7 linked regions of the Homo sapiens genome follow. The protein of the gene in region 6 interacts with the protein of the main gene of each other region in a biochemical or structural test. Each region holds a gene or a part of one and is shown on either strand. Other genes may lie near its edges. The genes, in order: CPEB1, TNPO2, GIGYF2, HHEX, XPO1, EIF4E and LRPPRC.

Region 1 (3,500 bases), on a different chromosome or scaffold from region 6:
GCCTGCAAGTACCAAGACAAGACAAGATTGATCAGATAAGGAAAAAAAAAAAAAAGGAAGCCATAGTCTTACAAACCAAATGGACATTTCAAGTACAATAAGAGACCAACACAGCAGAGGTAAGAGTGTATGAATTTTACAAATAGTACTAGTCTAGAAATGAGAAAACGTGGGTTCAAGTTCTGTCTCTATTCCCTGCTCACAGTATAAAATTAGGGTAATCACTTTCCATTCTAAACTTAATTCTCCTAGTCCATGAAAAGAGGATGTCAGAGATTATATCTGGCTTTGGTGTCAACTCCAAGTTATATGTAGGAGACAGGTCTCTAACACCTTTTGAGCTTCACAACAATTCCAAGATTACAGCTTTAAAAAAAAACAAAAACAAAAACAAAAAGCCTCAGGAGAAAGGGCAGACACATGGGAGACAGACAGATGGTGTCAGGGCCAGAACCCAGGAGCACAAAGCCAGAATGCAGAGAGCACAGGTGTTAAGTAGTAAGAGATTAAGTGTTCTGTAAAAAGACACAAAAAAACCAACCTGCCCTTCACAGTAACTGTTCTCTTCCAACAGAGGAGAGCTACTCCCACACTTTTATCAAAGGGGATTGTAGGAAGTGGGGCTAAATCTGTCAGGATGGTACATAAAGCAGCATATTATGCTGGCCAAGAATAAAGAAACAAGTAACACTCTTAGTCAAGTTACTCCTAAAATCAATAGCTACTTGCAACCAAGACCCGTTTTTAGCATACAAACCAACCTTTAGACCTGCCCTCTGGGGATTCTCCTGTTACCTCAGGGGAACTCATCACGAATGCCTTAAATAAATCAAAACAAAGAGTGTTAACTCACTATAATTTAAAAGGACTGTTCCACCATTCAAGAATACAAAAAAAAAAAAAAAGAATTCAAAGGTTATCCATGCCTAAGTGTTCTCCTGAACTACTGAAAGTAAAGCTCAACCCCAGTCAGTCAGGAATCCTCCCAGGTCCAAGTTAATCAAAACCACATTATATATTAGGGTGGCAAAATAATCCCTAACATTGGGCTTTAAAATGACACCTAATAAAATTCATTGGAAATTACATCTACAATGTGAATTTAGCACTCTGAAATTTGGATACTAACTTTTTACAGCAAGTCAGATAATTTTCCTATGAAAATATGAAATATTACATCATACATGTTTTAGTTCAATCTTTTTCAGCTAGTTTACTATAATTGAGAAATGCACTGTTGGGGCAGGTCCTATCTTCAACATAAAAACTTTCTACGGAATCTGTGCTCACAGAAGATGAGACGCTCTAAAGCAGGCTGCAACAACGGCAGGAAAAAACTAAGGGCATTTCCAAAACTGCAATGTTGGGTGCAAAGGAAGCAAAGTTCATGGTGACCAAAAAGCTTTAAGAGCCTGCATGGTGGCTCATACCTGTAATCCCAATACTCTGGGAGGCTGAGGCAGGAGGATGGCTTGAGCCGAGGATAAGCCTGGCCAACATAGTGAAACCCCATCTCAAAGAAAAAATTTTTTAAAAAGTAGCCAAACATGTTGAATGGCTGTAGTCCTAGCTACTTCGGAGGCTGAGGCTGAAGGATCCCTTAAGCCAGGGAGCTTTGAGGCTGCAGTAAGCTGTGATTGCACCACTGCCCGCCAGCCTGGGTGACACAGTGAGACCTTGTCTCAAAAAAAACCTTAATAATAAAATCTTAAAAGGCTTAAGAAACGGTAAAGGGTGCAATCAGTGCTTCTGGGTCTTAATTCAAACAAGAGAAGCAAAATTCTTACATAACCCCCTCTACCATAACTTCTAGGTGCAAACCACGTCCTACCCTTTAGCCTCAGGGGCTTTCTGGCAAATTCTCCCCAGAGTCAGTACAGTTTATATACCGCCTAGGAAAAGCACATTTGCAGAACAGGATGAGATTAGCACAACTTCTCCATAGCAGAGAAAATAATTTGTTATTTGATCCCATGATTCTTTTACTGCCTCCAATACTAGCTACTAAAAACAGTGTAAACATTAATATTTAGGTTTGGTGTGCATTTCTGTCTCAAACTGTAAGCCAAAAGTACTAATACTCTAATTTTCCCTTAAAATAAACATAACTTTAGAAAATAATCATTTAGCTAAGGGACCTGAAACCAATGAATGAGAAAGCCTGCACAGACAACACCTAACGTTATAAATGCAAAAATAACACCAGCAGAGAGCTACTTTAGTCACCTCACCCTTCCCCTCCCCAGCACACTCCACACCCCCAAATCCACAAACACTGAACTCATAGCTGAGTGCCTTGCTGGTAAAGGTTGCTAAGAAGCAGCTAGAGGCAGGTAACATTTTAAAGTTTTCATCTTTCCAAAAACTTTCCAGGATACAGGTAAGAAAGCTATCTAGCTTGTGTCTGAGTTTACATTCTCACAGAAAAAAATTCTTTGGCAAAAGCTCTGAATATGCTTTTTACTCCTTTAAATCCTTGGGAATGAGGCTGGGCACGGTGGCTCACACCTGTAATCCCAGCACTGTGGGAGGCTGAGGCGGACAGATCACGAGGTCAGGAGTTCGAGACCAGCCTGGCCAATATGGTGAAACCCCATCTTAGTAAAAATACAAAAATTAGCCGGGCGTGGTGGCGCGTGCCTATAGTCCCCACTACTTGGGAGGCTGAGGCAGAAGAATTGCTTGAACCCCAGAGGCGGAGGTTGCAGTGAGCCGAGATTGTGCCACTGCACTCCAGCTTGGGCAACAGAGTCTCCATCTCAAAAAAAAAAAATCCTTGAAAATGAAATATAGGAAAAAAAAAATGTACATACCCCTTTACATCCGTAAGTGTGGCTGTGTACAATGCTGGGATTCTAAGTTTTATCCAGAATTGAAACCCCAGCCCCTCATTTCTGGGGCAGGGCTATTTTATGCCCCGGGAGCTTATCTCAGATTTTACCACAGACTGCTTTAAAAAAATTTTTTTTAACCTTTATTAATTCTTCCTGGAAATCTAAGAGACAGCATTATGGGAATCTTAGCTAAGACAGACAAGGTGAGATTTAGTAAGCTCCATGTTACTTTTACAGGTCTTAAAACAATTATATAATTTCAAATTTGCCTTGCCTCAGACAGAAAAAGTTAGTACTGAAATTTTAACTGTCCTGAAAAAAAGGAGCCTTTTGTGCAGAGGGTTGGGAGGGTCACCCCCACAGTGGGAGGAGCCTGCCTTCCCCAGACCTCCGGCTCTCAGGATCAGCTAACTGCTCTGACATACATTGTGGAATGATAGACACAGCACATTCCTCCTAACATCAGCACTGCTGTACTAACACTCAGAAGACCCACACTGACTTCTACAGCAACTGGGATTCCTGCCAATGCAGTTAAGGTTCACTTTGCCTATAAATGTGACCAGCTCCCAGACCACCACCTTTTTTCTAGAATGTACGCCACCAATAACCCCTTGATCCTTTGACATAACAGAACACACATAATAGGCTGGGCTACGGCACCAG
Region 2 (3,500 bases), on a different chromosome or scaffold from region 6:
GCCTTGCACTGTGGGGCTCCAGGGGTTCCTTTCAGGCCCAGGAACCAAGGGGAGAATTGAGATCTCAGAGCTGTTTGGAGTGGGGTGAGTAGGCCTCCAGGGAGAACTGAGGCATTGGTGTGGCTAGTAATGTGGGCCAGCCCTACAGTCTCATGCCAGCACAGGGCTCAGAGATCAGGCGCACTCACCCTCAGCAATGGCGCCCAGCACCAGGATGCCCGACTCCTTGACCACCCACTCGGGGTGGAAGAGGAGGCCTTTGAGTAGTGGGAGTAGGTGGGGCAGCAGTTCCTCCCGGAAGACATTGGCGAGGACGTCCAGTGCAGCCGCTGAGCACTTCCCTGGGGAAGGGGGAACAATGGGGAGGCTCAGGGCGGCCCCTCAGGCAGGTGGCCGACCCTCCTTGACTGCACTCCCAGGATCAGAGATCATGCTCAGAATCTTCACGATCAGCTTCTTTTTTTTTGTTTTGTTTTTTTGAGACGGAGTCTCACTTTTTCCGCCCAGGCCGGAGTGCAGTGGCGCTATCTCGGCTCACTGCAAGCTCCGCCTCCTGGGTTCATGCCGTTTTCCTGCCTCAGCCTCCCGAGTAGCTGGGACTACAGGCGCCCGACACCACGCCCGACTAATTTTTTGTATTTTTAGTAGAGACGGGGTTTCACTGTGTTAGCCAGGATGGTGTTGATCTCCTGACCTCGTGATCCGCCCGCCTCAGCCTTCCAAAGTGCTGGGATTACAGGCGTAAGCCACTGCGCCCGGCCACGATCAGCTTCTAATCAGCTTCTGCCTCAGCTTCTAGTCACCTCCCAAGAGGGAGTCCAGGGCTTGCCACCCCACCACCACCCCCAGGCAGGGGCACACACTCAAATTCCAGTCGGACAGAGCATCATCATCATCGTCATCCTCCGCGTCCTCGGAGCCATCAGGCCGCTCAGCCTCGTGGGGCAGTGTGACCGTGCGTGACTTGTGGAAGCGTGGCTTGATGTCCTGCTCACTGTCGGGGACAGCCTCATCCTCCTCCACATCCCCCTGGGGGACAGGCAGACTGTTAAGTACTTTGGGGACCACAGCCGCGACACCCACGCCCATGCCCACCCATGCTGGGTGGGCCCTGCCTGACCTTGAGCAGGATGATGTCAATTTCCGAGTACTTCATCCCATTCACCAAGATGGGGATCAACCTGCACAGAGAGGGACTGTTTATGGGGATGCAGGGGCCGTGGCAAAAGTTGGGGGGAGGCACAGCTTGGGGAGGAGGCAAACAGGTGCCAACAGAGTGACCAGCCCCCCAATCAGCCACAGAGCAGACCCTGCAGAGCATGATGGTACTGCTAGGTGCAAATTGATCCATTTCCCTCTGGGGAATTATCGGAATCTAGTCTCTGCCGCTATGATTAGGATATAAATGATACCACTCCTGCCTCCAGAGAAAGGTTTTTTTTTTTTTTTCTTAAGAAGCAGGGTCTAACCCTGTGGGCGGCAAGCCACCCAGGCACCGAGGCAAGAGACAGAGGACACGAGCTGTTCCAGTATAATAAAATATAAAACAAGAATAGTTATACCAGATATAGATCTTAGATATGATTATATATGAATATCATTAATCATTAGTTTGTAGCAATTACTTTTTATTCCAATATTATGATAATCCTCGCTCTATAATCATAGCCTAGGAAAAACCAGGCCATACAGAGATAGGAGCTGAGGGGACATAGTGAGGTGTGACCAGAAGACAAGAGTGCGAGCCTTCTGTTATGCCCGGACAGGGCCACCAGAGGGCTCCTTGGTCTAGCGGTGACGCCAGCATCTGGGAAGACGCCCGTTACCAGGCGGATCATGGTCCAGCGGTAGCAAAAGGTGTCAAGGAACAACACCCGCTACTTAGCAGACCAGGAAAGTGGGGGAGTCTCCCTTTCCCCGGGGGAGTTTAGAGAAGACTCTGCTCCTCCACCTCTTGTGGAGGGCCTGACATCAGTCAGGTTTGCCCGCAGTTATCCGGAGGCCTAACCGTCTCCCTGAGATGCTGTGCTTCAGTGGTCACACTCCTAGTCTGCCTTCATGTTCCATCCTGTACACCTGGCTCTGCCTTCCAGATAGCAGTAGTAAATTAGTGAAAATACTAATAGTCCCTGATATGCAGAAATAATGGCATACGCTGTCTTTCTCTTTGTCTACTCTCCCTCTCTGCCTCGGCTGCCAGGCAGGGAAGGGCCCCCTGTCCAGTGGACACGTGACCCATGTGACCTTACCTATCATTGGAGGTGACTCACATTCTTTACCCTGCCCCTTCTGCCTTGTATGCAATAAATAACAGCGCAGCCAGACATTTGGGGTCACTACCGGTCTCCGCGCATTGGTGGTAGTGGTCCCCCGGGCCCAGCTGCCTTTTCTATTATCTCTTTGTCTTGTGTCTTTATTTCTACACTCTCTCATCGCCGCACACAGGAAGAGACCCACCGACCCTGTGGGGCTGGTCCCTACGTAACCCTATCACCCAGGCTGGAGTGCACTGGTGCGATCACAGCTCACCACAGCCTCATGCTCCTGGGCTCATGCAATCCTCCTGCCTCAGCCTCCCAAAGTGCTAGGATTATAGGCGTGAGCCATGGCACTCAGCCTGCAGGAAAGCTCTTGACCCAGGCCTGGCCACTCAGTGGATTATAGACCCCTGAATACACTGAAAATCTTGGTACAGTGCCTGGTCCCTAGCACAACATTAAGGCAGGGACATGCGGTCCTATTCCTGGCCACTTTCCTGAGATAGGGCAGAGACTAGCCAGAGTAGGGGAGCAAACAGACTAGGCAGCCAGCCCCTCAGCTGCAGCCCAGAGTTGTAAGTGACAGAGCCTTCATCACCTGCTCATCTAGGTCTCATCACTCCCCAGGAGCCGTCTGCCCAGCCCTAGACTGTTATCAATAATTTGGGGCCGGGCACAGGGGCTCACACCTGTCATTATAGCACTTTGGGAGACCAATGCAGGAGGATTGCCTGAGCCCATAAGTTTGAGACCAATTGGGACAATATAGTGAGACCTCACCTCTAATGAATGATAAATAAATAAATAAATAAATAAATAAATAAATAAACATACAATATGCTGGGCGTGGTGACTCACGCCTGTAATCCTAGCACTTTGGGAGGCCAAAGTGGGCAGAACACAAGGTCAGGAAGCTGAGGCAAGAGAATCGCTTGAACCCGAGGGGCGGAGGTTGCAGTGAGCCGAGATTGTGCCACTGCCCTCCAGCCTGGGCAGCAGAGTGAGACTCCGTCTCAAAAACAGAAATTTCAAAATAATAATAATAATGATCTGGGGGCTGGGTACAGTGGCTCGCACCTGTAATCTCAACACTTTAGGAGACCAAGACAGGAGGACTGCTTGAGGCCAGGGATCCGAGACCAGCCAGAGCAACTTAGCAAGACCTCATCTCTACTAAAACTTAGAAAAGATTAGCTAGGTGTGGTGGGATGTGCCTGTAATCCCAGCTACTTGGGAGGCTGA
Region 3 (3,500 bases), on a different chromosome or scaffold from region 6:
GAATGAACTTGTGATTATGTTTCTGACCTAGGTTTAAAGCTTATTCTTCAAATAAGGTTAAATCACATTTTCAAAAGGGAAAAAATGAAAGAATAAACCCTTTCTTGTTAGGAAAAACACTCATTGTTGGGGAGGGAAGCACATATTTCAAGTGTGTAATTTTTACACATTTATAAATCTTAAAGAATGCTAAAAAAGATTCAGAGATTTAGAGGTAGACAAAACTGAATGAAACCCTCATTTCTGCAGTTGAGCGCAGGTGCTTCCCATTAAACTACACTATTTGCCCCAGAAAAATAGAAAAGTGATTTCAATCAACTGAATAGATGTAGGAAATTTTTATGTTGCAATTTTTTCTAGTAATAAAACTGTGACAGCATAAATAATATGAATCCACCCCCACATTTTTTAAGCCAGTTTATCTTTTTCATTTAATCCCTATTTCCATCAAACTTTCCCTTATTTCAGTCCCTGTGTGCCTTTACTCAACAGAATTCTTACCAGGACTGTGAGGTCGCCACCTCTCTCCATCCCTCCTTGATCCAGCTAGTCGCCAACCTCCATCTTCATCTTCTCCATTTTGTTCCTCTCTAAAGATGCGCCAATTTTCACTTTCTGAGCGTATAAATTCATGCTTTCTCCCTACTGATGTTGGTCCACCTTCCTCAAAATTTGGTCTCCCTATAAAGAAAATAATATGGTAAGTAAACATGAGCCTCTGCCAGTATAGGCTTTGAAAACAAACTTCACAGCTCAAATCAAGCTTTCCTGCAAATGGGTCCATTTCAATATTCAGAAAAAAATCACTAAAATAACAGTGGGTATATGTATATATTATTAGACACATTTCTTAAAGCCATGTTCAGAGACTGGGCAATTTTTTTAAACAAAAATATTATGTAAAATTTTTTTTGAAAAAGCGTACAATGAAAAGTCCATCTTCCTACACAAGACCCTCAGAGTCGTACTCCCCAGAAGGAACCATCACCAAGTTTCTTATAAAGTCTTTCCAAACACTGTCCATGGGTACACTTACACATGTATACATAGCTCCCTCATCCACACACACAAACGCCACCCTCAGGATGTTATAAATGTTGTTTTGTTTGCTGTTTTCACTAACAGTGTATCTTGCCAATCCTTCCTTACTAGCACATACTTTTTAAAGTTATAAGATATTTTTCATCATACAACATACTTTATATAACCAACACCTACTGGTGATTCTGCCTAAACATGATATCTGTACATTTCAGGCCGTCTTTCATTCCAAAACAGATTATAAACTGAAAAGCAGGCCGCGTGGTGGCTCACGCCTATAATCCCAGCACTTTGGGAGGCCGAGACAGGTGGATCACGAGGTCAGGAGTTGGGAGACCAGCCTGGCCAATGTGGTGAAACCTCATGTCTACTCAAAATACAAAAATTAGCTGGGTGTGGTGACAAGTGCCTGTAATCCCAGCTACTCAGGAGGCTGAGGCAGGAGAATGGCTTGAACCCAGGAGGCGGAGGTCGCGGTAAGCAGAGATCGCGACACTGTACTCCAGCCTGGGTGACAGAGCAAGACTCCGTCTCAAAAAAAAAAATTGAAAAGTAGTATAACCTCATTTACTCTAGCACCTAATACAATACAGGCATACCATAAATTGCTTTTGGACAGAATTTAAAGCTAAGCTATGTCTAACCTAATGTCTCAAAAGTTACATTAATGTCAAAAGAGAGCCTGGTATACCAAGTAAACTAAACTGGTATTTTAAAAGGACAAGATCATTCTAAATTGTGCAAACAAATTCTTCAGTCACCATTCCACATGTGCTAACATATATAACTCATAACATTTATAAAATCTCACATCAAAATAGTTGAAAATCCAGAATAACATACATTGATGTCCTCAGTTTATAACAATAAAAGTTCAAGTTCTCATAATGACAAACTCAATCCTTTTAATTAATCCATACTAAAAGTGAAAAAATAATTGAACAACAGCATATGAAAATGAAATTCTAATTTCTGGTCATTCTGTTATATTCCATCTTACATATATTGAGATTCAGCATCCTGCTTGTCCATATGGTTGTTAGTCTGCTACTAGGTATCATTCTACTGAAAGATAAAATATCTTGGGAGAATGGAAGACATGATCTGCTGCTTTCTTATTGTGGTGGACAGCCTCTAAGAGCTCACCAACAATCCCTGACTGCTGATCTCTGTGGAATCCTCTACCCCCAATTATAAGCTGGACTAACAGAATGCAGCTGAAGTGATGAGATGCCACTTAAAATATTAAAGAAGACTGTAGTTTCCATCTTGGACACTTTCTCTGAAGGACACTAGTTGCCATGTAGTGACACAGACCTCGTGGAGAAGCTTGCATGGCAAAGAACTGAGACTTACCACCAGAAACATGAGTGAGTCTGGAAGTGGATCAAACCCCAGTTGAGCTTTGAGAGACTGCAGCATGGGCTGACACCTTGAGTGCAGCCTTACAAGAACCCTGGGCCAGAACCACCCAGCTAGGCTAAGCTGCTTCTAGATTCCCAACCCACAGAAACTGAGATAATAAATGTTTGCTGTTTTGAACCACCAAGCAAGGGTTTTATTATCTATGACCTTGCTCTTACCTGCAGGACGTGTCTGGAATGTCAGAACTATATTCTGGCTTTCCTTGGTTTATTAGTCCATTTTGCATGGCTATAAAGGAATACCTGAGGCTGGGTAATTTATTAAAAAAAAAAAAAGAAGAAGAAGTTGTTTATTTGGCTCGTGGTTCTGCAGACTATACAAGCATGGCACCAGCATCTGTCTGGCTTCCAGTGAGACCTCAGGAAGCTGTTACTCATTGTGGAAGGTGAAGTGAGAGCAAGTATGTCACATGGTGAGAGAGGGAGCAAGAAAGATGACAGAGATCCCAGACTCTTGAACTCATTACAGTGGGGAGGGGATGAGGGATCCACCCTCATGACCCAAACACCTCCCACCAGGCCCCACCTCCAACACTGGCGATCACATTTCAACATGTGATCTGGAGGGGACAAACATCCAAACTATATCACTTGGTTTACCAGAGAAGTCATAATCTAAATCTATTGTAGTTATTATGTAATATCTGATATATCAAAAACCATATTGCAGCTTTTATAAATTATTTTGTGGCCAGGCGCGGTGGCTCACACCTGTAATCCCAGCACTTTGGGAGGCTAAGGCGGGCAGATCACGAGGTCAGATCAAGCTAACACGATGAAACCCCATCTCTACTAAAAATAGAAAAAATTAGCCGGGCGCGGTGGCGGGCGCCTGTAGTCCCAAGCTACTCAGGAGGCTGAGGCAGGAGAATGGCATGAACCTGGGAGGTGGAGCTTGCAGTGAGCCCAGATCACGCCACTGCTCTCCAGCCTGGGTGACAGAGCAAGACTCCGTCTCAAAAAAAAAAAAAAAAAAAAAGAAATTATTTCGTGTAAGTAGCTAGAACCTCAGGCACATGCCACCACACTCAGCTA
Region 4 (3,193 bases), on a different chromosome or scaffold from region 6:
TATCAATTATGCTTGGGTTTTCACACACTGGCTAGTAAAACTCCCAGCTAATTGTTTTATAAATCCCATATGTTGTTTATCTAATTAACGCAGGAAAGATAAAGTAATTGACAGTAAATGACTTAAGCAGTTATCTTTGGGAGAAAATTGTTTCTTTTATTTACACAGCCATAATAAAACCAGGCAGAACTCAAGGGTAAATATAAAGAAACAAACACCTTTAAGTCTTGTTTGCACTGTTTTTTAGAAGAATTAAATGTCAGGGAGTTTAAAAATTATTTTCTATCTAATGCCAGCTCTTAAAATGAAATATAAAACTTGTAAGAAAATATTCAAGCCTGTTTGGAAAGTAGCTTAAACTTTCTGACAGTCTTTCTTCCAGTGACCTTGTTTCGCAATATGTGATAAAAAGTAAAGGCTAATTTAGTTTTTAAAAGAAGGTCTATTGACTTAAAGCTAAACATTCATTTTTGATGTCCTAATCTGGATATACTCTCCAAAGTTATCTGATAATTGCTGAATTGTTCACTTGTCATTGTATATACGGTTTATAATAAATACTTTGAAACAATGAGTGGAGAAATTTAAAGCAAAGTGGATTTTAAAATTTATTGATCATTACTTTTTCATTAAAAAGAAAGTGTCCCAAAGAATATTTTGAAATAGAAAATAAAATTCCCATAACTTCATTACTGTAATGTGATTTAAATATTTGCAGATCCACTCTCAATTTCTGACCGTGTGCATCTATTTGTTGAGACTATAAGGCTTGCAACTATATAACAAATAGATGTTGTAATATTTCTATGTAGTATTTATATGCATTTTAGACAAGTATAGGATTAAAAATTCACTAGCTTATATACTTAATAGTTCTTGGTCAAAGGCTTGACTCTAGTTTACCAGAGACCTTAAAAATAGTGGTTTCTATGTAATATGGGGATATTTCCCAGAAATTTGCCCCAGATTTTAAGTAAATTGTAGCTAATTGTCTACCTTCTCAGTTGGCAGCATTCTTCCAGATCCACATTTTTTTTCTTTGCCATGATTTTGTAACTTGTTAAACATTTACACATGTAGATGTTTATAAATTTACTCCAGAAAATGAATGAAAAAAGATCCAGTCTAATAATTGAAACTTTATTCTTAATTCACCAGTTAGCATTCTTATTTTTAAAATGTCTGAAAGACTGTTAATTGGCAAGGTTTAAATATTTAAAGAATGAAGTTAAGGTGTATCTGTAGTGATCTGATTTTCTTTCCCCCTTAAACTTTTGAGAATATTGAAACCATGGGTCTGGGCTGGTGTTAAGTAACCAGAATTTGTGTTCAATTGGTATAATGTATCTGCCCTTATGTTCATGACTGGTTCTCATCTTTTAAGCATATAATCTTTGATATGACAGAAACTTTTCTTCCAAAGTGAGCAAAAAGCACAAGTATGTATCTCCTGAATAAGATTATAAACTGAAAACACTCAGTAAACTAAAAATTAAAAGATGGAATAGGATGAAGAGACATTTTGATTTATTCCTCTCACCTATCCATATTTTATGATCCTTCCAATCTCCATTTTCATTTCCTTTATTCAGGAGAACCCTCAAAGCAATAAAAAAGAAGAACTGGAAAGTTTGGACAGTTCCTGTGATCAGAGGCAAGATTTGCCCAGTGAACAGAATAAAGGTGCTTCTTTGGATAGCTCTCAATGTTCGCCCTCCCCTGCCTCCCAGGAAGACCTTGAATCAGAGATTTCAGAGGATTCTGATCAGGAAGTGGACATTGAGGGCGATAAAAGCTATTTTAATGCTGGATGATGACCACTGGCATTGGCATGTTCAGAAAACTGGATTTAGGAATAATGTTTTGCTACAGAAAATCTTCATAGAAGAACTGGAAGGCTATATAAGAAAGGGAATCAATTCTCTGGTATTCTGGAAACCTAAAAATATTTGGTGCACTGCTCAATTAACAAACCTACATGGAGACCTTAATTTTGACTTAACAAATAGTTTATGTACTGCTCTTAGGTTGTTTTGATAAAGTGACATTATAGTGATTAAATTCTTCCCCCTTTAAAAAAACAGTTAGTGGTTTTCACTATTTATAAAAAATTAATTTTGAACTTTTTGTTAAATTTTTAAGTTATAGCTTTAAAGGTTTTAATAGGACCTTCTTGAACGACTTTTCTGTAATCTGTTTATCTCCCACTTAATGGAAAGGCAAAGGGGTACCCCAAATCCAGAGGTGCCTACATTTCAGGCAGCCTTGGAGTATTTTAAAAGGAAAACATTCTTTACTTTTATATGACATTCTTATACTGCTGTCTCAAATCCAAAAACATTTCAGAGCTCTTGTCTCAGAGATGTGTGTTCTTTTTGTCAGAGATATGGTTGATGAGAATCTTAAATGCTTGTTTTGCACTATCACTTAGTACCTGTTTGACCAAGGTGTTAAGGGGATAGTACCTCCCAATTCAAGCAGAGAAACTGACCTGACTAAAGTTAATCGCAGATGAACTAGAAGTCACAGGTTAATTAAATGTAAGTAGATTGTAGATACTGTTTTATATCAAACAATGTTTATAATGTGTATATAGAATTGTTCACTGTAAAAAAAATGGCCAAAATGTGTTTTTTTTTTAATAAGTAACTTGACTATAAAATAAAGCCGTCCGTGGGACGACTGACCTCGTTGCAAGTCTAATTCTTTGATTTTAAAAAGTCTGCACACCTTTTCTTGACCTCCTGGGTGCTTGGCGCGGTGCTGGGCTCTGGGGACAGGAAGTGACTGGGGCTGGATCTTGCTGGGGCTCTCGTTCCGAGTCCCAGGACCGCGGGTGGGTGCCTGGAACGTGGGTTGGGGCCTCTCCCGGGCCGTTTGCCTTGGGGCTCTGCTCCTGCCGGCGGATTCTGAGCCTGATGGGTTCGAGTCCCGGGCACGCCAGGCGACGGGAAGAGCCGAGGCCCAGGCCCGCTGCGCCGTGAAGCGCGGGGCCGTCCGGACCCCATCGATTCTCCTCGGCAGCCGGGCTGGCCCTCGCCGTCCTTGACCGGCTGAGTCAACACCGCGTCATCCCTCGGCGGCCGGGGCTCGGGAACCCGCTCCGCGCGGCGGGGCCCGGGGTGGGGAAGTCCGAGTGGGGGGATGGGGGGCCCTGGCCGAGGGGAGCGGGGAGGTGGTTTGCGCTGAGAAC
Region 5 (3,500 bases), on a different chromosome or scaffold from region 6:
CAGGAGAATCACTTGAACCTGCATGGCGGAGGTTGCAGTGAGCCAAGATCACGCCACTGCTCTCCAGCCTGGGTGATAAAAGCGAGACTGTGCCCCCCCAAAAAAAACAAAAAAAATGGTGTGATACCTTACAGTAAATAGTCTTCAATGTGATTATTATGCATTGTATGCTTCTACCGAAGTATCTCATGCATCCCATCCCCTAAGTATATACACCTACTATGTATTCACACAAATTTTGTTCTCTTTGTGATAGAGTCTTGTTCTGTAGCCCCAGCACATTATCTCAACCTCTTCCTCCAAGATGCAAGCAATTCTCCTGCCTCAGCCTCCCCAGCAGCTGGGATTACAGGCACCACCACATCTGGCTCATTTTTTGTATTTTTACTAGAGACGTAGTTTCACCATGTTGCCCAGGCTGATCTCAAACTCCCAAGCTCAGACAATCCACCTGTCTCGGCCTCCCAAAGTGCTAGGATTACAGGCATGAGCCACTGCACCCAGACACTTTTTTCTCTTTTCTTTTGAGAGGCAGTCTTGCTCTGTCGCCCAGGCTGGCGTGCAGTGTTATGATCTCAGCTCACTGAAACCTCTGCCTCCTGGGTTCAAGTGATTCTCCTGCCTCTGCCTCCCGAGTAGCTGGGACTACAGGCACCTGCCACCAGACCTGGCTAATTTTTGTATTTTTAGTAGAGATGAGGTTTCACCATGTTGGCCGGGCTGATCCTGAACTCCTGACCTCAACTGATCTGTCTGCCTCGGCCTCCCAAAGTGCTGGGATTACAGGTGTGAGCCACTGTGCCCAGCTAAAAATTCTTCATATGCCAAGATACCAAGAAAGATGTTTCTCCTAAGGCTAATTAATAACTGTCATTAAATTAAGTTTAGTTATATTATCATTGACTTCGTAGCTATCAGTTAACTTTTTTTTTTTTTTTTTGAGATGAAGTTTCACTCTTGTCACCCAGGTTGGAGTGCAATGACGTGATCTCGGCTCACCGCAACCTTTGCCTCGTGGGTTCAAGCAATTCTCTTGCCTCAGCCTCTCAAGTAGCTGCGAATACAGCTGTGCGCCACCACGCCTGGCTAATTTTTGTATTATTAGTAGAGACGGGGGTTTCACCATGTTGGCCGTGCTAGTCTCAAACTCCCGACATCAGGTGACCCACCCACCTTGGCCTCCCAAAGTGCTGGGATTACAGGCATGAGCAACTGCGCCCAGCCTAGGTAACTTTCATTAGTTTTTTAAAAATTGGCTAATATTTTTACAGTAAAAAAAAAAAACCTTTGTATTTTGGAGAAAATATTTAAGAGCTAAGAGACTAATTCTTATTCAACAATCATGGATAAACTATTCATCAACTACTTAGGGTTTCACAGTACTTCCAAATTTCTTTAAAGCAAGATGTTCAAAGAAAAACCCTTCCCAAAAGTATGAATAAAGCACTGTATAACAGCAGAAGAAAGACATTCTATCTAGTAACTTTCACAAGTTCCCTCAACTAACAAAATTGGTATAAAATTATAAAAAGAACTACCAACGTTTTTCTTACCCAATATTCCATTATACATTTAAGACTACCTAAAATGAATTACATTAGTAATAAGTTTATCCGAATAACATCTCAAACATATCTATCCTTATTGGACTTTAGTTTTTCACTGTATTACCAGTCTCAGGTTTTTTGATTACAGAGATTGTGTAAACGTATTATCTTGAAACCCCATTTATTTGGCATGACAAATCAAGTGATAAAAATTCTACAATGTAACATAAAAGTGGTCACATCTACCCCTAATATTTCTGCAAGAGCAAATAAATACATACCTTTATTTGAACTAGGAAATCTCTTAAATGTTCCTTGAAAGCAGGAATATCTTGATTTAAGCTGAAAAGCCCTGTCACAAAGAGCTTTACTTGAGCACTGCAAATCAAAACACAATGATTAAATAATGATTTATTTTTCCCCCGAGACAGAGTATTGCTCTGTCACCAGGCTGGAGTACAGTGGCATGATCTCTGCTCACTGTAATCTCTGCCTCCCGGGTTCAAGACATTCTCCTGCCTCAGCGTCCCAATAATGTTTTTTTTTTTTAATCAAGAATTTTTTTTTAATTTTTGAGACAAAGTTTTGCTCGTTTACCAGGTTGGAGTACAATCGCACAATCGCGGCTCACCGCAACCTCTGAAGCTATTCTCCTGCCTCAGCCTCCCAAGTAGCTGGGATTACAGGCATGCACCACCATGCCCGGCTAATTTGTATTTTTAGTAGAGACAGGGTTTCTCCATGTTGGTCAGGCAAATCTCAAACTCCTGACCTCAGGTAATCTGCCCGCCTAGGCCTCCCAAAGTGCTTGGATTACAGGCGTTTGCCACCGTGCCCAGCCTTTTTATTTTTTGAGACAGTCTTGCTCTGTCACCCACACTGGAGTGCAGTGGCACAATCTCGGCTCACTGCAACCTCTGCCTCCTGGGTTCAAGCAGTTCTCCCCCTCAGCCTCCCAAGTAGCTGGGATTTCAGGCACCCACCACCATGCCCAACTAATTTTTTGTATTTTTAGTAGAAACGGGGTTTCACCATCTTGGCCAGGCTGGTCTTGAACTCCTGACCTTGTGATTCACCCACCTCAGCCTCCCAAAGTGTTGGGATTACAGTCATGAGCCACCGTGCGTGGCCTTTTTTTTTTTTTTTTTTTTTTTGCTTTTTTAAAGAGGCAGGGTCTCACTCTATCACCCAGGCTGGTGTACAGTGGTGCGATCATAGCTCACTGCAGTCTTAAACTCCAGGATGCAAACAACCCTCTCGCCTCAGCCTCTCCAACAGCTGGTCCTACAGATGCATACCACTTCTGACTACTTTTTTTTTTGTAGAGACGGGATCTTGTTTTGTTGTCTAGGTTGGTCTCCAACTTTTGGGCCCAAGCAATCCTCCCACCTTAGGCTTCCCAAAGTGCTGGGATTACAGGTGTGAGCCACTGTGCCCGACCAGGAACATTCTACGTTTATTAAAAGGTATATTTACTCTTGTAGGTGAGGGAAGGCCGACTTAAGGAGATTAGCCACATATTCCTGAAGAAAGATTTGGTTGTTAACTGGATTTCCAGGATTTAATGATGTACTTATTTTTCCTTCTTCAACCAAATTAAACATATATGCAAGAATTGATGCATGCATTGTTAAACCTGTTGATAAGAAGAAAATTATTAACTCCAAAATGTAATATAACTATAGATCTTAGCGTTTTTTTTTGTTTTGTTTTTTTTTTTTAGACGGAGTCTCGCTCTGTCACCCAAGCTGGAATGCCGTGGCGCAATCTTAGTTCACTGCAACCTCTGCCTCCTCGGTCCAAGCCATTCTCCTGCCTCAGCCTCCCGAATAGGTGGGATTGCAATCACATGCCACCATGCCCAGTATTTTTATTGTATCTTTTATTTTTTTATGGTATTTTTAGTACAGACAGTTTCACCATGGTGGCCAGGCTGTTCTCGAACTCCTGACC
Region 6 (3,500 bases):
TTTACTAATGTGGCTTCCATTATGACCAATACTTTTCAAACTAATCTCTCACATAGCTCCTTTTGAACTCAAGACTCACACATAAAACTGTCTGCTGGTCATGGGTCATCCAAGTGAAAATAGAACCCTCAACCTTAGCATATCTAAAACTAGTCTCATAATCTAACTTTCCCTTCAAACTTGCCCCATTCACAATTTACCTTGTGGCCTAACTCAGAAAACCTAGGTGTTAGAAAGCTTACCTGTTCTGTAGGGGATGTTTAATATAGTGTTCTGGGTTAGCAACCTCCTGATTAGATTCCGTTTTCTCCTCTTCTGTAGTCGGGGGATTAGGAGTAGGGGTGGTTTCCTAGTGGAAAATAATATAAAACATTATTTTAAATGTCTTAACACATCTATGACAGCAATATTCTAACTAAACCTGAACTGATATGCTGATAATTTTTTTTTTTTGAGACAGAGTCTCTCTCTGTTGCCCAGGCTGGAGTGCAGTCGTGCGATCTTGGCTCACTGCAACCTCCTCCTCCTCCCAGGTTCAAGCAGTTCTCCTGCCTCAGCCTCCTAAGTAGCTGGGATTACAGATGTGTGCCACCATGCCTGGCTAATTTTTGTATTTTTAGTAGAGACGGGGTTTCACCCCGTTGGTCAGGCTGGTCTTGAACTCCTGACCTTGTGATTCACCTGCCTTGGCCTCCCAAAGTGCTGGGATTACAGGCGTGAGCCACCACACCCGGCACTAGTAGTATTTTTTAAGAAGAAGGAATTAAAGCAGATTGCTTCATAAAACAGACCACAGACCAAACTCTAAAGAACCATTCTCTATTCTCATATCTCTTCATTAAGAGCAAAGAGCAAACGGTTTCTCAAATTTGAAAATATAACAGTATTTATAGTTATCCTTCCACTTGCACTTTTTTTTTTAAATAGCAGGAAGACTGTCACAGACTATGCAACAAAGTTGGGAAAATCTTCTATCTTTCTTAACATACCATCATATTAAGATACTGCATATGGTACTGAAGGGGGTATCAGGAAGGATACAGGATGGAAACTAAAGTTTCAAGAGTATAACAACTGTATCACTGGGCACTGTGGTGCGTCTCTACAATCCCAGCTACTCGGGAGATTAATAGGAGGATTAATAGGAGGATTGCTTGAGCCCAGGAGTTTGAGACCAGCCTGGGCAACACGGCAAGACCCTGTCTCAAAAACAAACAAAACAAAACAAAACAACATTATGATGACAAAAAAGCTTTGTAAAGTGATCAAGCCAATGATGCGCAGGTCTTACCTTCATGGCATACTGTTTACCCTATCGTAACCTAAAAGTTCGGCAACTTAATATTTTCAATGGAACCTAACAAGATGGACATTGGCTTGAACTTAAATCTTCTTTTAGGCTAGACAAAATTAACACTGTCATCTAAAAATATCAGAAAGAAAAGTAGTCTGGGGGCAGTAATTTAAAATAGGTGTTCACCACATTCTTCCATGTAGCTCTTCATACTATCATAAATTGTTGTCAACAAAAGAAGAGAGCCAAAGAAAGGCACTAGGACAAAGACTGATACCAAAAAAAGGGCAATGCAACAAGTGTTTGGATATCAGACTGAAGCAGCAAACAACAGAGATCTATGTTAACATAACAAGATATGTAAGTCAAATATTTATTGTCTAAAAGAATGCAGAGCAGAAAGGTGGTAAATATTTATTTGAAAGAATATGGGTTTTTTTTTTTTTTGTATTTTATTTTTCTTAGAGATGGGGTCTCACTCATAGCTCACTGCAGCCTCAATCTCCCTGGCTCAAGCAATCTTCTTGCCTCAGCTTCCACGGTAACTGGGACTACAGATAGGCACCATGATACCTGGCTAATTCTTTTTTATTTTTAGTAGAGACAAGGTCTCACCATGTTGGCCAGGCTGGTCTCAAACTCCTGAGCTCAAGCAATCCTCCCACCTTGGCCTCCCAAGGGATATGTTTTTTCTTATCAACATATGACATGTACAAGAATTTCTATTAGCCTATAAAGTCACCCAGAACGGAGACCATGTCTTGATTTTACTCAATAATCACAGTACTTAACCCAACAGGAACTTATTAACTTGATTACTTAACTGAATAAATTTAAATGTTTACACAGAATGATTAAGGCCTGAAAATTGACATACAGTAAGTAATGCCTTAAAACCAAACATTTTTATCAACATTTACTTACCAGTAAATTTAAGTGTTCAAACAGATAATTACTGAATGACATTTCCTATCCCACTAGCTTAAAATTAATGATGGGTTTCCAGGCAGACAGTGGGAGTCTCGATGAAAACAATGAGAGACTGGCAGGCAGGTAGGCTTTGGGGGACAGGGTACCAGAGAAAAACTGCTGTAGATGAGAAGTGGGCTCCTCAATATATGTAAAAATCCCTCACAGGTTTTTGGCTAACTCCTAAACTGGCACTTTCAGAGCGTAACTCTGGTTGGCCTAACAGAGAAGAACAGCTAAGCCAAAACTTGCAACTGCCCAGTATTTGTGAAACGTAAGCAGAACGGGTGCAGGGACTTATGTCTGTAATTGCAGCACTTTGAGAGGCCAAGGCGAGAGGACTGCTTGAGTCCAGGAGTTCGAAAACAGCCTCAGCAAGTGAGACCCAGTGAAGAAAGGGGAAGAAAGAAAAAGAAACAATCCTCTTTCTCTCTCTCTCTCAAGTCTTTGGACATACAGGAATTAAAAGCAAGTTATCACTCAGGAAAAACATATTCAGTTCCTAGAATTTTAAAGTGTTATTTTGAATTAAAATAAAAGTCCCACTGTAAGTAACTGATTACTATAGTCTTCATATCAAGAACACATAATCGGCCGGGCATGGTGGCTCACGCCTGTAATCCCAGCACTTTGGGAGGTCAAGGCAAGTGCACCACCTGAGCTCAGGAGTTCAAGACCAGCCTGGCCGACATGGTGAAACCCCATCTCTACTAAAAATGCAAAAATTAGCTGGGCGTGGTAGCACGCGCCTGTAATCCCAGCTACTGGGGAGGCTAAGGCAAGAGAATTGCTTGAACCCAGGAGGCAGAGATTGCAGTGAGCACAGATCGTGCCACTGTTCTCCAGCCTGGGCGACAAGAGCAAAACTCAGTCTCAAAACAAAACAAAAAAGGACACATGATTTTGTACTTTTCCAACAACTTAAAAAAGGAGCTACACATTTTTAAATATGTGTGTATGTATGAATCAGTAAGTATACTAATTTAAAATCTTTAGTCTTCACTTTTAAACATACTAGATTTTAAAACGAATGATGTGAAATACCATAAAAATTTTTATTGGGCATAGACAGTCATCTTTTCGTATGATCTATATGGGAACTAAAAAATATTTCAAGAAACAAGTTCTATTTTAAGGTATCTAACCTTATTTTTAAGATTGCTTCCTATAGACACTAAATAGTTTTAAGTTTACATTCAGTTTAAAAACAAAACTCTACTGCAAAATCCTACCATAT
Region 7 (3,500 bases), on a different chromosome or scaffold from region 6:
ATAAGATGTGAAACAATACAAGAAGTTATTATTTTTAGATGATGTGATTGTTTAATCTGCAAAATCCCAGAAAATCAGCTCACAGTAATTAGCTGGACTCACTAAATGTTTAAGAATCCATACCTCTTCTAGTTATAAAAGAAAATAGAGAAAAGAATCCAAGAAAGTATAGCTACAGATAAATAAAATATTTAGGACTATCCTTCAAAAAGTGAGTAGGACCTATGTGAAAAAAACTACAGGATAAAGACAGATTCTTCCTTCACAGTTTTGAATACATCTAGAATACATTTTGATAAGTTGATTTTTTTTTAAGTTAAAAACTATATAGATAAATGTTGACTTTCAGAATGGAAAAGGATTTTATAAGTATAAAAGGAGCAGAAAAGTAAAGCTAAAATATTGAATCTCTAAAAATTAGAAATTTCTGTATGTCAGTAAGTCATTGAACTGGGAGAAATATATGCAGAAAAGGTTACATTCTAAAATAGAAAAAAGCATTACACAGCAGTAATAACATTAATTCCTCCATATAAAGATTAACAATGTGTTATTATATTAACATTCTTTACAGATAGGTCTCTCCTGTATAAGTGTCTGCTTTATAAGGATGGAATCCATGGCTTCTTTATTTTCCTGTTTGACAGTAGCATGATGCTTTGTGTATAATGGCATTTGATACATACTTGTTGAATTAATATTGCCAGAAACCTTGTAGTTTGCCAGTTTGACTCTTGTTTACAGATTTATAAAGATACAAGAGATCTTTTAGCTTAAGTAACTTGTCCAAAATTACAGAATGAGCTGTTGACAGATCTGAGCTATCTGTAAGATGGGGCTGATAATAGTGTCTCAAAGTTGTTGTGAAGTTTGAGTGAGCCACTATATGTGGAACACTTAGCATAGTGCCTGAAACATAGTATGAAAGAAACATATCTGTTAAGATAAAAATGTGTATTAATTTAATGGAACAGCTCTCTGCTGCCTAAAATCACATACTCTCACCCCCAGATACTAACCATAGGCCTGTATGGTCACAGGCAGTTGAATAAAGATGTGAAATTTAATGCATGAAAATGTAGTGAGACATGTTACCACAAAATTGATATAAAGACCATGATGTCATGACTCAGTAGAGTAAGGCTGTGTGGTAACCTTATTTGATGTGGCCCTAAACAGTAGGGATACAAAGAAAACAAAGGTCATTAGAATACAGATAATTAACAAGAGCATACCATAGATCATGTTCATCAGCTGAAAATGGAATGCATCCTTAAAATGAAGGCTTTGAGTGACAGAATTGCCAGCACAGTCCTACTGTGTGAAAGAACTGAAGTTACAATCCATTCTTCACAGTGTGTCTGTAATGTGAGGACTGCTTTATATAGAAAAATCTTACAGTCACTTTTAAATATAGGGATATTGTCAGCGTTTTCTAACAGGAAGATAATTTTGTGCTTCATAAGTAAGAGGCCTTTTAATATCCGAATAGGCAGTTACTTGTAACTATACAGTAACTCAGTAATTACTGTCTTACATGCTTAGCTTGCTCTGTGTGACAGAGTATCTGTGTAGATAGGTCTGAGCGCCAAGATGGATGGGTGAAATGCTAAAGTGATAGTTTTACTCTTTTTGTTTGTTAAATTTAGGTCCACTTTAAAGCATAGGATTTTCAATGCTTTTCTAAAAATTCATTTTAAATTTCATTTGTAGGTGCTGTGTATGATGTGAGTCACTATAATGCTTTACTTAAAGTCTATCTTCAAAATGAATATAAATTCTCACCAACTGATTTCCTGGCAAAAATGGAGGAAGCAAACATTCAACCAAATCGAGTAAGTAGTTGCTATTGTGAATATATTTTCACATCCACCATTTTTTTTCTTTACTCAGAAAAAAAAGTATATTTAAAATTAACTGGCCCATTTCATTGACAGGTGACATACCAGAGATTGATTGCTTCTTATTGTAATGTAGGAGATATTGAAGGTGCCAGGTATGGATCTGTATGAACATGTTTAAGCGAACAAATTTGTACATTTTGTAAATCTAATGTCTGTTCACTCTTTGTTTTAAAGCTTCTTCCTAATGGAGGAAATTGTTTCAGAACTGTTTTAATCTAGAAAATCTGGTAATCTGACTTACATAAAATATAAAATTATCGTGTAAGAGAGAAAAGATAAGTAAAAGTTGCTATTTTAATTAAAAATTTGATTTACTGGAGAGAGGTATAAAGTTGTTGAGCTATAAAGCTGACTTTGCTTTTTTTTTTTTTTTTTTAAATATTTCCTAAGGGAAATGTTCTTAACCATTTAAGCTGTATTCATTTATAAAACTGGAAGTAGTGTAGAAAATCAGTTGCACCATTTCTCTGCTTATGTAAAATTTATTACTACTTATGAATGGAAGGTTTGGAAAATAAGGGATAAATTGGAATACATAATTTCATTTTTATCTAAAAGAATCTTATGAAACTATGCTTTTAAAAGGGTAATTAGTAGTGTAAGACAAATCAGATAATCAGATTTTTAAAAATCTAGTATTTGTATCGATAGTACTTCAAGACTGTTGATACATTAGAGAGTGGGGTTTTGTGGGAAGGGGATCAAAGGGATTAGTTCTTTCTTTGTGGTTTCTAAAACAAATGTATATTACTATTATATTTTAAAAACAAAAGTAACTCAAGGCCTAATTCTGTACATGTTGTAAAGAGTGTTCTTATAAATACTTTCAATGAGTATCTTCGTTTTTCCTTTGCAGCAAGATTCTTGGATTTATGAAAACTAAGGATCTCCCAGTTACAGAGGCAGTATTCAGTGCCCTTGTGACAGGGCATGCCAGAGCTGGGTAATGTTCAACCTAAGGTTTTGGTTCTTAAGTGATAGATGGCTGAGATGCTAAAGTGGTCATTTTACTCCTTTTTTGTTTGTTAAGTGGGGTTTAAATTAGAGAAAATTATTGTAGACAGTTCTTAAAATACATTTGTCTATCCCTTCAAAAAAAAATCTGTAGTATATGAGGTAGAGCATACTAATATTTTTATAATGAGCTTTTACATTTGTTCCACAAATCTTTCTTTTATTTGAATTTTTAGAAATTGGGCTTGAAGCCGGGCGTGGTGGCTCATGCCTGTAATCCCAGCACTTTGGGAGGCTGAGGTGGGCAGATCACCTGAGGTCAGGAGTTCAAGACCAGCTTGGCCAACATGGTGAAACCCGGTCTCTACAAAAATATAAAAATTTAGCCGGGCATGATGGCAGGTGCCTGTAATCCCAGCTACTTGGGAGTCTGAGGCAGGAGCGTTGCTTGAACCCGGGAGGCAGAGGTTGCAGTGAGCCGAGATTACACCATTGCACTCCAGCCTGGGAGACAGAGCAAGACTCCATCTCAAAAAAAAAAAAGAAAAAAGAAACTGGGCTTGATCTGATCTGAAGTAACTGCTCTGGAAAATATTTTTATTTTTGAAGAGTAATTTACTAAATGTTATTCTTACCTCGAAA

The links.
Region 1: the proteins of EIF4E (region 6) and CPEB1 form a complex in vitro, tested with the Homo sapiens proteins (one study listed by BioGRID).
Region 2: the proteins of EIF4E (region 6) and TNPO2 form a complex in vitro, tested with the Homo sapiens proteins (one study listed by IntAct).
Region 3: the proteins of EIF4E (region 6) and GIGYF2 form a complex in vitro, tested with the Homo sapiens proteins (one study listed by IntAct).
Region 4: the proteins of EIF4E (region 6) and HHEX form a complex in vitro, tested with the Homo sapiens proteins (one study listed by BioGRID).
Region 5: the proteins of EIF4E (region 6) and XPO1 form a complex in vitro, tested with the Homo sapiens proteins (one study listed by BioGRID).
Region 7: the proteins of EIF4E (region 6) and LRPPRC form a complex in vitro, tested with the Homo sapiens proteins (one study listed by BioGRID).

Annotation. Positions count from the first base shown.
Region 1 is NC_000015.10:82,640,864-82,644,363, forward strand, and holds part of CPEB1 (cytoplasmic polyadenylation element-binding protein 1), read right to left. Parts: intron 820-3,500; exon of another isoform or gene 762-819; intron 3-761; exon of another isoform or gene 1-2.
Region 2 is NC_000019.10:12,710,433-12,713,932, forward strand, and holds part of TNPO2 (transportin-2), read right to left. Parts: intron 1,182-3,500; coding exon 1,121-1,181; intron 1,030-1,120; coding exon 864-1,029; intron 342-863; coding exon 189-341; intron 1-188. UniProt on the Homo sapiens protein: Probably functions in nuclear protein import as nuclear transport receptor. Serves as receptor for nuclear localization signals (NLS) in cargo substrates.
Region 3 is NC_000002.12:232,784,331-232,787,830, reverse strand, and holds part of GIGYF2 (GRB10-interacting GYF protein 2), read right to left. Parts: intron 682-3,500; coding exon 502-681; intron 1-501. UniProt on the Homo sapiens protein: Key component of the 4EHP-GYF2 complex, a multiprotein complex that acts as a repressor of translation initiation. In the 4EHP-GYF2 complex, acts as a factor that bridges EIF4E2 to ZFP36/TTP, linking translation repression with mRNA decay.
Region 4 is NC_000010.11:92,692,955-92,696,147, forward strand, and holds the end of HHEX (hematopoietically-expressed homeobox protein HHEX), read left to right. Parts: intron 1-1,592; coding exon 1,593-1,814; 3' UTR 1,815-2,693; downstream 2,694-3,193. UniProt on the Homo sapiens protein: Recognizes the DNA sequence 5'-ATTAA-3'. Transcriptional repressor. Activator of WNT-mediated transcription in conjunction with CTNNB1.
Region 5 is NC_000002.12:61,479,357-61,482,856, forward strand, and holds part of XPO1 (exportin-1), read right to left. Parts: exon of another isoform or gene 3,271-3,500; intron 3,184-3,270; coding exon 3,024-3,183; intron 1,926-3,023; coding exon 1,829-1,925; intron 1,228-1,828; exon of another isoform or gene 969-1,227; intron 1-968. UniProt on the Homo sapiens protein: Mediates the nuclear export of cellular proteins (cargos) bearing a leucine-rich nuclear export signal (NES) and of RNAs.
Region 6 is NC_000004.12:98,901,634-98,905,133, forward strand, and holds part of EIF4E (eukaryotic translation initiation factor 4E), read right to left. Parts: intron 350-3,500; coding exon 243-349; intron 1-242. UniProt on the Homo sapiens protein: Acts in the cytoplasm to initiate and regulate protein synthesis and is required in the nucleus for export of a subset of mRNAs from the nucleus to the cytoplasm which promotes processes such as RNA capping, processing and splicing.
Region 7 is NC_000002.12:43,975,490-43,978,989, reverse strand, and holds part of LRPPRC (leucine-rich PPR motif-containing protein, mitochondrial precursor), read left to right. Parts: intron 1-1,713; coding exon 1,714-1,835; intron 1,836-1,937; coding exon 1,938-1,996; intron 1,997-2,760; coding exon 2,761-2,847; intron 2,848-3,500. UniProt on the Homo sapiens protein: May play a role in RNA metabolism in both nuclei and mitochondria. In the nucleus binds to HNRPA1-associated poly(A) mRNAs and is part of nmRNP complexes at late stages of mRNA maturation which are possibly associated with nuclear mRNA export.